Homo sapiens: one gene and its partners. The protein of the gene in region 3 binds, or shares a complex with, the protein of the main gene of each other region. Each region holds a gene or a part of one and is shown on either strand. Other genes may lie near its edges. The genes, in order: MED24, MED25, MED4 and MED16.

Region 1 (3,540 bases), on a different chromosome or scaffold from region 3:
GGAGGCTGAGGCAGACTGCTTGAGCCTAGGAGAACAAGGCTGCAGTGAGCCGAGATGGTGCCACTGCACTCCAGCCTGAGCAACAGAGCAAAACCGTGTCTCAGAAAAACAGGCTGGGCGTGGTGGCTCACGCCTGTAATCCCAGCACTTTGGGAGGCCAAGGCGGGTGGATCATCTGAGTTCAGGAGTTCGAGACCAGCCTGACCAATATGGTGAAACCCCGTCTCTACTAAAAATACAAAAATTAGCCAGGCGTTGTGGCAGGCGCCTGTAGTCCCAGAGACTCAGGAGGCTGAGACAGGAAAATTGCTTAAACCCAGGAGGCGGAGGTTGCAGTAAGCTGAGATCGTGCGACTGCACTCCAGCCTGGGCAACAGAGGGAGACTCCAACTCAAACAAACAAACAAACAAACAAACAAAAAACAAAACAAAAAAAGGGCACAGAGGGACCTCAGATACAGAGATCCCAATGGAATGAGAGAGAAAAACTAACATGTGGTGAGCACACAGGGCCAGGGGCCGATCTTGGTACTTCCTAAGCTGCTTACTCCTCACAACACCCCATTTACAGATGAGGAGACCCAGACGGGGGCTGGCTCAGTCGCTAGCTAAAGGTCACAGCACTTGTAGCTGGCAAACCTAGCATCTTTCTTCTGATCAAGTGTATAGTTGGTCCCCTAGTTCCTAAAAGGCTTCAGAGAAAAGTTCAGGCTCAGGAGAAATCTCTGGAAACAGGAAAAATGCCACAGAAGGAACCCTTGGCAGTAAGCCTGGCAGGGAGGAGGGGACAGTGAAAAGGATGACCTCCAGGGAAGTGGTTGGTGGGGGGTGTGCTCTTTAGGCAGGAAGGTGGGGAGTAGCCCCATGCCCCAGCCCGGGCCTCTCCGGGCATGTTTTGGGGGAAGGAAGGAAGGAAGGTCAGAGCTGGTGAGTCAATGGCACAGGCTGTGCCTGAGGCAGTGAACTCACTCACTTGGGTAGCTTGTCATCCCCTCAACCCTGGGGTAAGGGAGGGGCAGGAGGGCTGTGGGGGAACAACTGTGGGCTGGGCTGGACCTGGGCAGAGGAGCTTCAACCCTCAGGGAGTGAGAACAGCAACCTCTTCTCCAGGGGCAGGACACAGAGCACCCCCTTGGGGGCTAGAACAGCAGGTCCCTGCCACACCCTCTCTGACCAGCTGCAAAGATGCCTGCAGCTGGGGCAGCGGCAGAGTGGCAGCATCGGGGAGTGAATTCCCAGGAAAAGGAGCGGCGCGCGGCCAGCCCACACACTCACTGGGGCTCGAAAGGATGTTGGCATCGTCCTCATTAGAGCTCAGCAGTCGCATCAACTTCGAAGGCTGCACATCGTCCAGGGGGAAGAGGCTGATATAATCCTAGAGGGAGTGAAAGTCACTGTTATACACCCCTAAACCCCCCAGTTTCCAGCTGTCAGGGAAAAGAGCTTGAGCTCCGATTTGAGCGAGGTCAGCATGGCTAGCAGGGCCTCAGCCCCTCTCTGCTCAACCCCTCCCACAATCTGACAGGCCCCTTGTGCCCATGGGCAAGCTGGGGCCACACAAATCACCCATGCAGATTCCTGACCAATCATGCCCAGGCACAGCTGCCCCAAGGGCAGGGGCCACAACTGCTTCCCTTTGCCTGGGGAATCCTTAGGAAATGCTGTAACAAACCGGTGAACAAGTGAAGCCGGCGAGGGCAGCTGGGGGGCCTACCTCAATGTCTTCGCGGTGTCTCTTCTTCTGGCGGGTGGACGCCTGTCCCTTGTGGGAGGAGTAGGAACTGAGGGCACACCACACGGCCAGCCTGGCAAAGGGTTCCAGAAAAAGGGGGACAGTGAGAGGTGCCCCAGGAGCTTTCTGTGTCTGACTGGGCTCCCCAAAGCCCAGTCTCCCAGGGTGGCACCAGGCGAGGGGTGCTTGACCCTGGGTGGCCGGAGCAGGGCAAGCTCTGAAGAGAATCTTACTTGGCAAGAGCAGTGCCCGGGGGGTCCATGAGGCTGTGCCACTTGGAGGAGTCAGTGAGCAGGCCAGGTAGGATGTGGCCCAGCAGGACCAGGGTCACTTGCTGCATGTCCAGGCAGAAGATGGAGTAGAGCAGCTCCACTGCCCGCAGCGTGTGCTCCTTCCGCGTCTCCTTCAGCAGCTCCTAGTGCGCAGGAAAGGGGGCAGTTCAGGAGCCAGGGGCCCGGGATCTGGGGCTCCTACACCCTGCCACCCCAGCATGGCTGTCCAGTAAGGCCCGCAGAGGGGGCCCCAGATGTTGCTCCGCCCCTCAGGCTGAATCCCAGTCTCTGGCCAGAGCTCCCCAAGGAGGCAACTCTGAGGCGAGGCATTCCGGGGAGGCCACCTGGCTCACGGCAGCCTCTCAGGGAAGCCTGGCAGACCAGGCCAGGTGTGGGGAGCCAGGGGACAGGACCCATGTCGGCCCACAGCCACTCCAGCCCAAGTACCTTAATCAGGTTGTTGCAGAACCAGTAGACGCCGCCCATGTGCAGCAGGGTGTCAAAGATGTGGATGGAGCGGCTGTCCACCCAGCCCTTCTCCAGCACCTTGGCAAAAATGTCCGTCAGCACCTCTTTGATGGGCCGCTTGGGGGGCAGCAGGTTCCAGTAGGGCATTGTGTCCACCCCGGTGGAGGGAAACTTGATCTGCGTGGCTGTCTGCTGCAGCACGTCGGCACACATGCGCTCCAGGATCGAGTTCATGATCACCACCCTGGGGGAGGGCCGAGAGAACCTGAGGCTCAGGTGCCACTGTAGGGTGGGGAGGGAGAGGAGGGAACACCCATGCCAGACTTTCCCTTGGACTTAGGTTACGGAAATCTCCCTGAGGCATTAACCCAGTTTTGCGCTGGGGGACGGTATACCCCGGGGTGACCTGGCCCCTGCTCTGCTCCTGGCAGGTCTCTCACCTGCAGGACACAAAGCCTATAAATAGGGACTGGGGAGGGACTTTCCTCCCCCTGGCCATTCCAGCCAGATATTCACATTTTCTTTTATTCTCCAACTTCCCCCATCCCCCAGGCCTGGGCCCTGCCAACCTGCCACATAAATAAACACAATCACTTCCCCCTAGGCTGAGTGCTTGGGGGTCCCCGCCCAGCCCTGGCCTCCTCCCAAAGTAAACTGTTCCTTCCAGGAGAGGCCCAAGGGCTGCCCCACAGGACTCTTCCCGGCCCCTGGTAGCTGGGCAGATAGAAGTGTATATCCAGGAATTTTCTCATGGAAAGAGGCTTCGGAAGTGAATACAGACCCGGGCCGAGTGCTGACTGTTCCTGGAATGCAGGGTGGCTCTGGGAAAGTTGCTATGACCTTTAGAGCCACTTTTCCCACCTGCACAATGGAGCCACAGACTTCTCACTACCCCTTACCCAGATAGGATTTAGGGTGCTTAGAATGGGTTACACCAGAGCAAAAGCTCCCTACTTGGTAGGGCGGGGGGGAAGGTGGTGGAGAAATGAGAGAAGAAAGGAAAAAAGGAGGAGGCAAGGGGAAAACGAGATGTGCTTTTCCAGACCGTCCAAACCTCATTCAGCTCAA
Region 2 (4,638 bases), on a different chromosome or scaffold from region 3:
ACAGAAGTCGGCTGGCATGCTGGTGTGGGCAAGTGAGGCGGGGACATGAGGCAGGGAGTGGGGGTGGGGCAGGGAACAGGAAAGAGACAGCAGGGTGAGGACTGCCCGGCAGCAGGGCTGGCCCTCCACCGCCACTCACCAGCAGCTGCTGGGGGATGAGCTGCATGATCAGCTTCTGGGGCCACTGCTCCGTCTTCCTGGGGGCGATGCCAGGAGAGGTGTGAGGAGGGGGCCAGCCCCAGCCCCACCACACCCCGCCCCTGACTGTCACCTACAGGTTCTCGCCATGATTCACGTAGACCTGGCAGGGCAGTGACCGCGTCAGCTTGGTGTTGGCATCCACTGAGGCAGGTTTGGGTTTCTGAGGGGGAAAAAAGAGCATGTCAGTAAAAAGGGCCATAAGCCTCAGTCCCCTTGAGCCCTCATGTCCTACCCTGGTAGCCCCAAAGCTCAGGATGTTCCCCAGTTTAAGTCCCATGAGCCCCAGGCCCCTCCTCCAGACCAGCAAGCCTTCAGTTCCTCAAATGTTACAGCTACGTGCCCGGCCCCTAAATCCCACCATCCACTGTGCCCCAGATGATACATCGCCTGGGCTCTTCTCTGGGCCCCAAATCCTGGGCTTTTCTGGGTTCTTTGCATGGGGACTCTCCTCTGTACCGCAAGTCCCACCACTCCATGGGGCTCCTGGCCTCGCCCCGCATCCCACAGGTCCAGCGCAACGAATGCCTCCAAACCCAGCACTGCAGACCCCACGCATCTGGCCCCATGAGTCCTACATGCCCAGCCCCACGGCCCCAGGAGTCCCAAGTGCCCAATGGACCCTCAGGCCCCTCACCTCTTGCCACTCCAGGACCCCGCTCCAGGCCAGAAGCTTATTGGAGACTGACTGCTGCCCACCGAGGGCTGGGGCTCCCAGCTGGGCTGGGGAAGGGCCGCTCACCCCTCCTGGGGCCACAGTGCCTGCCTGCCAGAGGGGAGGAAGGAGGGCCATGAGAATGGGGAAGGCCGGGAGCCTCCGGGGGCCATCCTGTGAGGGCAAACCAGGAAGGAGGAAAGATCCCTTCTTCTGCCCCTCCATCCCCAGAACAGCACTTGGCCAGCCGCAGGACCCCAAATGCTTGGACCTTGCAGGATTCGAGGACTCGTAAGCTGTGCGATGCCCTGGACTCCCAGACCCAGGGATTCCTTGGGTTTCTCGGAACAGCCCTGACCCTCCTGGAGCCATGAGCCTCCCCACTCTGTCCCCAGACCCTCATCTCAGGCATCTGCAGCACACACACCACGAGCCCCCAAAGCCCCAGAACCACGAGAGCCACATCCCCCTGGAAGGCAAATGACTCATCCTCTAACTGTCCTAGCTGTGGACAGCAGGAGGAAGGAGCAGGGGCAGGAGGCGTGCAGGCACCTACCATGGACGGTGCCCCGGGCTGTGCCGTGGGAGCCAGGCCGGAGCCAGGGGCCACAGTGGAGACCAGACTGGGCTGGGAAGCAGGTGGTGGCTTGGGGGCGCCAGGGGGTCCTGGGGGTAGTTGGGGAGCTGGGGCCTGGCTGAAGGGGGGACCCACTCCGGGAGCAGCTTGTTGGAGAGGGGTGATGGGCGAGACTGTGGGAGAGACCAAGGGAAGAAGTGGGGAACAAGTGTGTGGAGAGAGGCCTGCCTGGCCCCTGCCCGCCCTTCATCCTCACTCCAGGACTCACAGCGAGGGCCCAGCCCAGCCTTCTGGTTCTTGGCAGCCTCCACTGCATTCTGCGCGGCCACCTGAGCTGCACTCAGGTTCCCGGGAACCTGTGGGTAGAAGGGAAGAAGGGAAGGGACTGGTGAGGACCATGGCCCCCCAGTCCTGGTATCCCACGAGGTCACACCACCCATGGCCCCATGAGGCACCAGCTGGGATAGCTTAGCTCACAACACCCATCACACAGCACATGAGCTTCCATGGCCCCAAGAGTCCCACCTTCCCAATGTCCCATGGGACTCCCATCATCCCACAAGCTCCAACATGCAACTAGATTTCTCCCCAGGGGCCAGGGCTCCAGCAAGTCCCCAGAAGCATGTCCCTTCCCGGAAATATCCATACCTGGTACTGCGGGGGGACGGGGGGCAGAGGCTGCTGGGGGGCTGCTGAGAGAGTGGCACCTGAGGGTGCGGCGGGAGGCAGGGGGACTGGCTGCTTTGACTGGAGGGGGCCTGGGGCTGAGCCACCCCCAACTGAGAGCAGGAGGGATGGCCAACCCCAGAGAGAAGGGATTCAAGATGCAGAGAAAGGAGAGAAATCCAAAATCCAAGTCAGAGGGAGCTGGGGAAACACGTCGAGCCCCCATCCCCGCGCACGGTGCCCAGGCCTCACCAGGCAGCACGAGTCCCCGAACCAGCACCATGTGCCTCGGGTCCTGGCTCACATCTGTCGGAGGCTGCAGCGGCTCCAGCAAGGCCGGGGGGGCTGCCTTCTCAAACAGAAGCCGAAGCGCAGGCAGCTTCCGGGGAGACACAATGGAGAAGTGGATCCCCCGCTGTAGGAGAGGGGCCGAGCAGTCATGACGGGCCCCCTCCATAAGGGTGTTGGGGCCGGCCCCCAACCTACCACAACTGCTGTGTGGCTGGACGGCACCAGCCCTACAACCACAATTCCCATTGGGCTTTGAGGCAGGAGACCCTGAAACCAGGTATCACCTGCCCCGGGAGACTCTGGGTTCTAGTTTTGTCAGTAAGACTAAGTGGGCCAGGTGTGGAGGCTCACGTCTGTAATCCCAGGATTTTGTGAGACCGAGTCAGGCAGATCACATGAGGCCAGGAGTTTGAGAGCAGTCTGGCCAACATGGTGAAACCTCATCTCTACTAAAGATACAAAAATCAGCTGGGCGTGGTGGCGGGCGTCTATAATCCCAGCTACTCGGGAGGCTGAAACATGAGAATTGCTTGAACCCTGGAGGCAGAGGCTGCAGTGGGCCAAGATCACACCACTGCACTCCAGCCTGGGTAACAGAGCCAGACTGTTTCGAAAAGAGAGTAAGCAAAGCTGGTCACCAGTCTGTGACTATTCTGTGTCTGAGTCCAGGCCCCCAGTGCCTCCCCGCTTAGACCCAAGAGTCCAGGCCCCCAGTGCCTCCTCCCTCAGACCCAGGAGTCCAGGCCCTCAGTGCCTCCTGCCTCAGACCCAAGACTCCGGGCCCCCAGACCCTCGTCCCTCAGACCCTGGAGTCCTCACCTCCCCAATCTGCTGCACAAGATTCTCAGTTGTGCATCCAGAGTACGTGGTGCTCTCAACAGCAGGCAACAAGTATGGGGGTGAGTTGCAGATGAGGAGGCAGACCCGGTGCGTCTGGCCACTACCAGGAAAGAGAGAAGACATGGAGCCAGCAGCAACAGAGGCCCTGAGAAGGAACCCAGACCCAGCACCAGCGGAGATGCACATATTCCGCCTCACATGGAATCAGAAGCAACGCCCCTACTTTACAGCTGAGAACACTGAGGCTCCAAGAGGTTCTGGGATGTGCTCTACGTCACCCAGCAGGCAGGGCAGGCAGGAGTGACACCCAGAGTTGGCACTGCTTCCTGATGGGGATGCTGAGACCGGGCACTGGCCAGGCGTCCCCCAAGGACACACCTGCAGCCTCCTGGCTCAGCGTGCTTGGGGACACAGAGCCCATGCCCTACAGGGTGAGGCTGGAGGTAGAACCACTCGACAGGCAAAGTGGTTCCAGGCCAGGCAGAGAGAGACCGGCCCGGCCTGGGTGGAGGGGGCACTCACATCTGCTCGCGCATCTTCTTGAAGTCATCAAACAGCTGCAAGGCTGTGCTGAGTCCTTCCGCGATGAGGCTGCAGCTCTCACCACCCCCGCCCATGAACCTGCAGGGGCAGAGCGGTCAGCCCCCAGGGTTGCCATCATCCCCATCCCCAGGCTATGCTTGAAGAGCCTGCTCCCATGCTGTCCCCCACTCTATCCTGGGCTATGCACCTTGGGATGACGGGGACCCTGCTGAGTTCCCTACCCAATCCCTGGTGCTAGCACAGCACCAGTCCCAGACAGGACAGGGGACATTTGCTGTCTGTGTTTTTTTTTTTTTTTGAGATGGAGTCTCGCTCTGTCGCCCAGGCTGGAATGCAGTGGCATGATCTCAGTTCACTGCAAGCTCCGCTTCCTGGGTTCATGCCATTCTCCTGCCTCAGTCTCCCGAGTAGCTGGGACTACAGGTGCCTGCCACCACACCTGGCTAATTTTTTGTATTTTTAGTAGAGACGGGATTTCACCATGTTAGCCAGGATGGTCTCCATCTCCTGACCTCATGATCCACTTGCCTCAGCCTCCCAAAGTGCTGGGATTGCAGGAGTGAGCCACCACACCCGGCCGACATTTGTTGTCTTTAATCATGAGGACTGGGAGGGAATGGGAAAGGGCTGGGGACCCCAAGCCTAGGATCCTGTGCTGACTCCAACCCTGGAGTGACTGACTCCATGCCCAGCCTCCTGCTGTCCCCTCCCCTCTCTGGGCTGTCTGCTCCAAATCAGTCCTGGCCCCACTTCACCTTCCCAGCCAGAGACGGGGGCCTCCTCTGTCCTCCTAGTCTTATGGGTTCAAGTGTGCCCCCTTCAAAAAGACAGGTTGAGGTCCTAAGCCCCAGTACCTCAGAAGGTGACC
Region 3 (4,638 bases):
GAGGAGACAGTAATAAATCTTTTGTCTGCATCATTACCTTAGTTCTGTCTTACGTTTTGAGGGCAGGGAAATCTGACGGACTCAATAGAAAAGTGTCAGTGAGCCTCAAAAGGGGAGGAGGGGATCCAGATGAGGCCACAAGCTAGGAGAAACAGCTAACCTTAGGGGTAGTAAGGTTTTTGTTTTGTTTTTTTTCAAAAAAGAAAGAGGCTAGAGATAAATATGTTAATAGAAGACTACTAGTCTCTCAGGTACTCTGTTAATACCCGTGGGATTAAATAGGAATTTATACAAAGTATGCAAGAAGTAAAATGCAAGGCTTGACTTTATTTGATAGACACTTATTAAATGCTTGCTATGAGCCAGGCACACAGATTATTCAGAAGGTGATAATTAAGACCTATAATCAGCACTGATCTTTCTTGCACTTTTTAAAGAGTAGCAATTTGTGAATTGTGTCTTAGTACTGTGGATTCCTATGTAATTTTCATTGAAACTGTTACTATTAGAGAGGGATGTGCCCATTTGAAAATTTTCTAGCCACCATTTTATTTGGATATTTATAATTTTATATAGAATTTTAGAATTAGAAAGGATCTTAACGATGTTCAGTTCAACCTCCTGTGAGAATAAGCTCCAGGGTGGACGGATGAGGTAGAGGTTAATGGTGAGTGGAACCAGAACCTAGGTCTTCTGACTTTAGTTGAATAATTTTTTTCTACTGAACAATAAGATCTAAAGAGAATATTTTTTACTCATGGGTAGTATACAAATTAATTCAACCTGTGTAAACTTCTTGAAAGTTGTCAGGGAACTACTGTGTACTACTTGCTTTAATAATACAGCTTTTATAGAAATGGAAACCTAGCTTTCTCCTACGATGTGGGAGGAATGAGGATTAGAAGTCTGTTAAATAAATAGAATATACTTTACTTTTTACAGAAAAAGCTTTCTGTTGTTATTTAAAATACTCTTAATATTTGGCAGTTTGTAGCTCAGTCTTTTGTCTATTGTATTAGAAGAATTCCTATAAAATGAGAAGAACTTCATGTCAAAAGGATCTTGAAGAGGCATACCTGTACTTTTTAGTCTTCAACAAATCTTTTTAAATAGTTTTAAAATTGATTCTGAATTTTGATAGATATTTTCTTTCTGAAGTAGTATTCTCTACTTAGCACAGTAAAGGATATTTAGACTAGACTTGCATCTTAATTCTGTACTGGGGTAGTGATCGTAATAACTAGCCTTTGCTGAACTCTTCCTGTATGTACTTAAAGTGCAATATATCATGAATCCTCACAATAGCTTCATGTAATGGCTACTATTAATATTATATTCCTTTTCCTATTAAGAACACAGGCTCAGAGAGGCTGGTAACTTTCCCTGTGTCACACAGCTAGCAGATGGAGGACTAGAGATATGAACCACCAGACTTTCTATTTTATGTGTTTTAGCCTTCATGGTTTTTGCCGTATCTGCATACCACTTGTTTGTTTACTGTTTTATGAAATCACTGTATTTTTTTTTTTTTCCTGAGACGAAGTCTTGCTCTGTCACCCAGGCTGGAGTGCAGTGGCGTGATCTGGGTTCACAGCAACCTCCGCCTCCTGGGTTCAAGCAATTCTTCTGCCTCAGCCTCCTGAGTAGCTGGGATTACAGGCATGTGCCACCACCCCCGGCTAATTTTTATATTTTTAGTAGAGACGAAGTTTCACCATGTTGGTTAGGCTGGTCTCAAACTCCTGACCTTGTGATCCGCCTACCTCGGCCTCCCAAAGTGCTGGGATTACAGGCATGAGCCACTGCGCCTGGCCGAAATCACCGTATTTTTAAGATCATCTTCATTGTAAACAATACTGTGCATAAACTCAGAGTTTCAGTGTCTCAGTTTTTTCTAATATATATTAGCACAAATGTGTAAGTGTAAAAGTTTTCTTAAGTTCTTGGTGCCACCTAAAATCATCTCAAATACCAAATTTTGGGAGAACTTTCATTATTTATATATACATATATATATTTGCGATGGAGTTTCGCTCTTGTTGCCCCGGCTGGAGTGCAATGGCGCGATCTCAGCTCACCGCAGCCTCTGCCTCCGGGTTCAAGCGATTCTCCTTCCTCAGCCTCCTGAGTACCTGGGATTATAGGCATGCACCACCACGCCCAGCTAATTTTGTATTTTCAGTAGAGATGGGGTTTCTCCATGTTGGTCAGGCTGGTCTCGAACTTTTGACCTCTGGTGATTCGCCTGCCTCGGCCTCCCAAAGTGCTAGGATTACAGGCGTGAGCCACCGCGCCTGGCCTATATTGTATTTTTAAGGATAAACTTTTTTTTTTTTTTGAGACAGTGTCTTACTCTGTCACCCAGGCTAGAGTGCAGTGGCGTGATCTTGGCTCACTGCAACCTCCACCTCCCAGGCTCATGCAATTCTCCTGCCTCAGCCTGCTGAGTAACTGGGATTTTAGGCGCCACCACACCCAACTAATTTTTGTATTTTTAGTAGAGATGGGGTTTCACCATGTTGGCCAGGCCAGTCTAGAACTCGTGACCTCAAGTGATCTGCCCGCATCAGCCTCCCAAAGTTCTGGGATTACAGGCATGAGTCACTGTGCCCAGCCATAAGGATAAACTTTAAAATCGTGTCTTCCCTAGGAAATCACTAAACTTGCTCATGTTGCCATATTGCTAGTTCTGAAAGGCTAGTTTTATTTTGTTTTGTATGAAAGAATATCTGAAAAAGTAGAAAAGTTTGATATTAATGTTTCCCAAAATAATCATAGGTAGGCTCTTTTTATTCTTAACAAGAATTAGGAATAAAATTTTGAAGGTGTTGAAATTTATAGCCTAGCCAATTCAGTTACGGATTCTTTGTTTCATTGGAATGCAGCCTTTCAGTAGTCTATTGTCTGATTTAATTGACTGTTATCTGACAGGTCCTGGAGTTGTTAATTCACCGAGATGGGGAATTTCAAGAACTAATGAAATTGGCACTTAATCAGGGAAAAATTCATCATGAAATGCAAGTTTTAGAAAAAGAAGTAGAGAAGAGAGACAGTGATATTCAGCAGCTACAAAAACAGCTAAAGGAAGCAGAACAAATACTGGTAAGTTGACAGAGGTTGGTTCTTAAGGTTAAAAAGGATGTTGTTTAATCTGTTTCTGAAAAATCTGTTATCAATATTTTGAAGAGCAGAAAACTAGACTTTCCAAGTCTAAAGGTGATATCTTGTCACTCACCATTGCCAGTGGTTAAATGAAAGGCTATTGTCATTCTCTTTTTTACTTACTGTTTTCAAATAGTCTGCATTACTTGTGAGCCACATTTTCGATGCTTAAAGATTTTACAGTATTGAATTATAGAAATGGAAAGTTTTACTTTTATCCTGGTCTGATATAAATTTTAATTATCAGTAGTCTAAATCTCTCTTTTTTTTTTTTTGGTCTCTGATCCTTAGCATAAAAATCAGGGAAATTTTTCATTTTTTATATATTTTGAAATCAATAAAAATATATACACATTTTATAAATTGATTAAAATTGACATTAATTTAGTCATTCATCCTCATCTAGGTAGGATTTGGACATAGATCAAGGATCCTAGTTTTCCCTTTGCTGTTCTTGGCTACTATTTCAAAGAGGCAACTTATTTGCTATTATTTGCCCAGTTACTTCACTAAATACTAACTAATATAACATGATAGTATTGCAGAAATAGCTGAGCTTGATTCTCATGTCGACCAGACATTGCTGGCATCCTTACCACTGATTAATCTCTTAACAAATGTATTAAAATGAGCTCCAGTAACTAGAAGCCTGGGCAGTTCAGGGTAAATTAATCACCTCTACTAAGGAAACAACTCACTAGTAAATAGTTTTTAAAAATATATTAAAATCAGGCCGGGCATGGTGGCTAATGCCTGTAATCCCAGGGCTTTGGGAGGCCAACGCAGGTGGATCGCGAGGTCAGTCTGTGATTGAGACCAGTCTCAGTTCGAGACCAGTCTGGCCAACATAGTGAAACCCTGTCTCTATTACAAATACAAAAAATTAGCCAGGTGTGGTGGTGTGTGCCTGTAATTCCAGCTACTCAGGAGACTGAGGCAGGAGAATCGCGTGAACCTGGGAGGCATAGGTTGCAGTGAGCTGAGATTGCGCTATTGTATTCCAGCCCAGGCAACAGTGCAAGACTCTCAAAAAAAAAAAAAAAAAAAAAAATTAGCTGGGCACAGTGGCTCACACTTGTAATCCCAGCACTTTGGGAAGCCAAAGTGGGCAGATCACCTGAGGTCGGGAGTACAAGACTAGCCTAGTCAACATGGTGAAATCCATCTCTACTAAAAATACAAAAAAATTTAGCTGGGCATGGTGATTCACGCCTGTAATCTCAGGTACTTGGGAGGCTGAGGCAGGAGAATCTCTTGAACCCGGGAGGCAGAGGTTGCAATGAACTGGGATCACCCCACTGCACTCCAGCCTGGGCGACAGAGGGAGACTCTGTCTCAAAATATATTATTTATATGTTTGTATATATTATATATATATTAAAATCTGTAAATATGTATATAAAAATCCTTATGTATGTAATACTTGCTTATCAAACAAAATTCAGAAAATACAGAAAAATGGAAAGAAGAGGGAAA
Region 4 (4,638 bases), on a different chromosome or scaffold from region 3:
CACCTGGCGCCACCCCGTGTGGCTGCACAGACCTGCACCTTCACTGCCCGGTGCCCCCGCTGGGCACGTCTGTGTCTACCATCTGCCCACAGCCAAGCCACTGGGCAGTCCTGGGCTCCGACACTCCTCCTCGTCTCCTGCAGCCGTCCTCACCTGCTGGCCCAGCTGTTACCCGCCCGAGAGCCACGTCTCACACACATGCCACAGCCTTTCTCAGGTCTCACATCCCTGGCAGCTGGGGGTCACTGGGACAGTCCCCACCGCACCCATCTCTCCCCCATCTCTCCCCCTACCGCCCCACGTGCCCACCATGCCAGGCTTTGGTCCCCGCCATGCCCAGCTCTTCACGCACCGCCCCACGTGCCCACCGTGCCAGGCTTCGGTCCCCGCCATGCCCAGCTCTTCACCCACCACCCCACGTGCCCACCGTGCCAGGCTTCGGTCCCCGCCATGCCCAGCTCTTCACCCACCGCCCCACGTGCCCACCATGCCAGGCTTCGGTCCCCGCCATGCCCAGCTCTTCACGCACCGCCCCACGTGCCCACCATGCCAGGCTTCGGTTCCTACCATGCCCAGCTCTTCACCCACTGCCCCACATCCCCACTTAGCAGCTTAGCTTCTCCCTGCCTCAAGTCCCCCCTCATTTAGGAATGCTGACCGCAGCCGTCAGTTGGATGGAGGAGGGGATGTAAATCGTGCTGTGAGGGTACCCTGGCCACTAGCTGGGGGTGTGGTCGTCATGGCAGCTGCCTCCCCCGGCGCTGGGGCGTTGAGTTTCCTGTCTTTCCTATGAGAGGCTCAATTCCATGAGGGCCAGCCACCCCTGACCACTGTGTGCCCTCTGGGCGTCTCAGCCACTCTCTGGGCCTGTTTCCCCCCAGGGAATGCTGCTCACAGGACCCCTATACGGGTTTGCAGGAGGTCAAGGCTCTGTGACCGTGATGGCCCGTCCGGGGCAGAGACCTCATGATGCGGGTGGCACAGAGCAGCTGCGTGGTAGTCAGCTTCAGCCGAGTAACAAGCCAGCCCCAAACTGAGCAGCTCAGGCCAGCAGCCCTGCACTGTTTCTGTTTCTGTGGCTGCCTCAGCTGCGCTCTCCTGGTTCCCACGTGTCTGCGGTTAGCAGCCGAGGTGGCGTGGCCTGTCCACTGGCCGCACATGCTCCAGCAGGCCGGCTCCAGCTGCCCTCCGTGTCCCACATGCAGCCACAGCAGGACCCCCCACACGTGCTCTCTGGGCCACTGTTTTTGTTTTTTGTTTTTGAGCTAGGCTCTTGCTGTGTTGCCCAGGCTGGAGTGCAGTGGCGTGATCTTGGCTCACTGCAGCCTCATCTTCCTGGGCTCGAGCAATCCTACCTCAGCCTCCTGAGTAGCTGGGACTACAGGCGTGTGCAGGCGTGCATCACCACCACACACAGCTAATGTTTACTGTGTTTTTTTTGTAGAGAATGGGGTCTTGCTGTGTTGTCCAGGCTGGTCTTGAACTCCTGGACTCAAGCCATCCTCTGGCGTTGGCTTCCCAAAGTCTTGGGGTGGCAGATGTGAGCTGCTGTGCCCGGCCATGTCACATTTGCTAAGGCTTGGCCTGAGATTCCCAGAAGTCTCTGCCCTGTTGGGAGGAGCTGCGTCTTCACGCAGGGGCTGTCAGGCAGCGGATCTGTGGGTGCGACCATCCCGCATGGCTTTATTGGAATTGTAGATGAGGAGGGATGGGAATCCCGGCTGAGCTGGCTAAGGCCGAGCGAGTGTTAGGGTTTGCATGGCTGCAGGTCTGAGGTGGCGCCGTCTCCCCACTGTCTGCCCCATCGGGGGTGAGATGGTGCCGGCCCACAGGTTTCCATGAAATCCCAGGGCCCACCTTGGGTCACGTGCCCATCCTGGAACCAATGAGTGGCCGAGGCACGAAGCGCTCGGATTGGCCGGGCCTGGTCTTCTGGGCATGGGAGCAGGGCGGCATGAGACCTGGGAAGGGCCCTGGGCAGGTTGCACACCAGGCCATGCTGGACTCCTGCGGCTGTCTCAGCCTGTCTTTACTCCATTGCCTTCCTGTTTTCCTGCCCCTGATTTTTCAGTTGGCGACAAACAGCCCACAATTCTCAAATGGCGGATCCTATCGGCCACCAACGATCTGGACCGTGTGTCGGCCGTGGCGCTGCCCAAGCTGCCCATCTCGCTCACCAACACCGACCTCAAGGTGGCCAGCGACACACAGTTCTACCCTGGCCTCGGTACGGTGGAGCCAGCGGCAGCCACGCGGGGCCTCAGTTCACACCAGGGGAGTTGGGCCCTGAGCACAGGCCACGGGGTCGTGGGAGCTCACACCAGAGGACGTGGGCTCTGAGCACAGGCCATGGGGCTGTAGGAGCTCAGCCTTCTGGGTTCTGATGGGTTCCCAATTAGGAGGCAGATCTCATCTTTCGGGATCTGTGAGGCTGGCAGACAGATCCAGTGTTCTTTAATATGTAAAGAGTCATTGCAAATCAACAAGGGAGCCTGGGGAACTTGGTGGAACTCCTTCCTGGGTAGGCGGCATGTGTCCTCTCTGTGCTGCAGCAGCCATAATGTGGTCCTGAGCTCAAACCGTGGCATCCGTGCCCATGAGTGAGTCTGCACACTCTTCAGTGCCTACCCTATTTGCTCAGCTGTAAAATGTGGACAAGTCGGCCCTAGCTCAGGCCCTTTCTTCCCCCAGCTCCCGTTCTTCCCTGGTTCCCTGGAAAGAGCATTTATCAAAACCCGCTCGGGGCTCAGGGCTGTTCCTCAGAGCCTGCAGAGAGGTTGAGGGGATGCAGTTCCCTGCTCCAAAACCCTTGGTTTATGCTCCATTTTCCAGGCTCTATTTTTTTTTTTCTTTTTTTTTTTGAGTTGGAGTCTCATTCTGTTGCCCAGGCTGGAGTGCAGTGGTGTGATCTCGGCTCACTGCAACCTCCGCCTCCTGGGTTCAAGCGATTCTCCTTCCTGCCTCAGCCTCCCGAGTAGCTGGGACTACAGGCGCGTGCTGCCACGCCCGGCTAATTTTTTGTATTTTAGTAGAGACGGGGTTTCACCGGTGTTGCCCAGGCTGGTCTCGAACCCCTGAGCTCAGGCAATCTGCCCGCCTCAGCCTCCCAAAGTGCTAGGATTACAGGCGTGAGCCACCGCGCCCGGCTTTGCAGCCTCTCTACTGCAGGGACTCCTTTCATATTCTCTTTTCCATGAGCTTTGGGCTCTGGACCCCACCTCCCCCCGGCCCTCGTACAATGGCAGACCCCAGTGTGAGTGACAGCCCCAGCCCACCACCCTAAGATGCCTCTCTTTGGGACGCCAGGAGCCCCAACCCTTGGTCCCCCACCTGTAGTGCCCCCCTCCCCTGCGCTCCTTGAGGGGCGTGTCAGCCAGGACATGGGCCCAGCTGGGAGGGGCGGGGAGGGGCTGGGAGCAGTGTGGCCAAGGCTGCTGGCTCCTGCTCCCCTGGTGCTCAGGGACTGTGTAACTAAAGAAAGAGTGGCTGGGGGCACGGGCGCTGGATGCCGATTGGCGGGGGCTGACCCCCTGGATGGGCAGCCCCGGCTCTCCACACCCTGCAGAGCAGGAGGCCCCTCCCCCGGCGGGCGTGTCCTGGGCCCTGCCCATGTCTAAGCAGTGCCTGTGCCCCACAGGGCTGGCCCTGGCCTTCCACGACGGCAGCGTCCACATCGTGCACCGGCTCTCACTGCAGACCATGGCCGTCTTCTACAGCTCCGCGGCCCCGAGGCCTGTGGATGAGCCGGCCATGAAGCGCCCCCGCACCGCGGGCCCCGCCGTCCACTTAAAGGCTATGCAGCTATCGTGGACGTCACTGGCCCTGGTGGGGATTGACAGCCACGGGAAGGTGAGCTGCTGGGGCACGTGGGGCCGGGGCTGGTGGGCATTGACAACCAGGGGAAGGCGAGCTGCTGGGCATTGACAACCAGGGGAAGGTGAGCTGCTGGGGCACGTGGGGCTGGCCCTGGTGGGGATTGACAGCCAGGGGAAGGCGAGCTGCTGGGGCACGTGGGGCTGGGGCTGGTGGGCATTGACAACCAGGGGAAGGCGAGCTGCTGGGCATTGACAACCAGGGGAAGGCGAGCTGCTGGGGCACGTGGGGCTGGGGCTGGTGGGCATTGACAACCAGGGGAACGTGAGCTGCTGGGGCACGTGGGGCTGGGCTTGGGGGGCATTGACAACCACGGGAAGGTGAGCTGCTGGGCATTGACAACCAGGGGAAGGCGAGCTGCTGGGGCGTGGCCCTGGTAGGCATTGACAACCAGGGAAAGGCGAGCTGCTGGGGCACGTGGGGCTGGGGCTGGTGGGCATTGACAACCAGGGGAAGGCGAGCTGCTGGGGCACGTGGGGCTGGGGTTGGTGGGCATTGACAACCAGGGAAAGGTGAGCTGCTGGGGCATGTGCGGCTGGGGCTGGTGGGCATTGACAACCAGGGGAAGGTGAGCTGCTGGGGCACGTGGGGCTGGGCTTGGTGGGCATTGACAACCATGGGAAGGTGAGCTGCTGGGCATTGACAACCAGAGGAAGGCGAGCTGCTGGGGCATGTGGGGCTCGGCTTGGTGGGCATTGACAACCATGGGAAGGTGAGCTGCTGGGCATTGACAACCAGGGGAAGGCGAGCTGCTGGGGCACGTGG

What was found.
Region 1: MED4 (region 3) and MED24 share a complex: the UniProt entries of both Homo sapiens proteins name them as parts of the mediator complex.
Region 2: MED4 (region 3) and MED25 share a complex: the UniProt entries of both Homo sapiens proteins name them as parts of the mediator complex.
Region 4: MED4 (region 3) and MED16 share a complex: the UniProt entries of both Homo sapiens proteins name them as parts of the mediator complex.

What each region holds. Positions count from the first base shown.
Region 1 is NC_000017.11:40,020,680-40,024,219, forward strand, and holds part of MED24 (mediator of RNA polymerase II transcription subunit 24), read right to left. Parts: intron 2,717-3,540; coding exon 2,452-2,716; intron 2,148-2,451; coding exon 1,966-2,147; intron 1,806-1,965; coding exon 1,715-1,805; intron 1,376-1,714; coding exon 1,276-1,375; intron 1-1,275. UniProt on the Homo sapiens protein: Component of the Mediator complex, a coactivator involved in the regulated transcription of nearly all RNA polymerase II-dependent genes.
Region 2 is NC_000019.10:49,827,659-49,832,296, reverse strand, and holds part of MED25 (mediator of RNA polymerase II transcription subunit 25), read right to left. Parts: intron 3,849-4,638; coding exon 3,750-3,848; intron 3,328-3,749; coding exon 3,207-3,327; intron 2,512-3,206; coding exon 2,349-2,511; intron 2,210-2,348; coding exon 2,079-2,209; intron 1,787-2,078; coding exon 1,699-1,786; intron 1,604-1,698; coding exon 1,410-1,603; intron 965-1,409; coding exon 836-964; intron 362-835; coding exon 276-361; exon of another isoform or gene 198-275; coding exon 140-197; intron 1-139. UniProt on the Homo sapiens protein: Component of the Mediator complex, a coactivator involved in the regulated transcription of nearly all RNA polymerase II-dependent genes.
Region 3 is NC_000013.11:48,084,746-48,089,383, reverse strand, and holds part of MED4 (mediator of RNA polymerase II transcription subunit 4), read left to right. Parts: intron 1-2,931; coding exon 2,932-3,102; intron 3,103-4,638. UniProt on the Homo sapiens protein: Component of the Mediator complex, a coactivator involved in the regulated transcription of nearly all RNA polymerase II-dependent genes.
Region 4 is NC_000019.10:879,148-883,785, reverse strand, and holds part of MED16 (mediator of RNA polymerase II transcription subunit 16), read left to right. Parts: intron 1-2,071; coding exon 2,072-2,227; intron 2,228-3,637; coding exon 3,638-3,849; intron 3,850-4,638. UniProt on the Homo sapiens protein: Component of the Mediator complex, a coactivator involved in the regulated transcription of nearly all RNA polymerase II-dependent genes.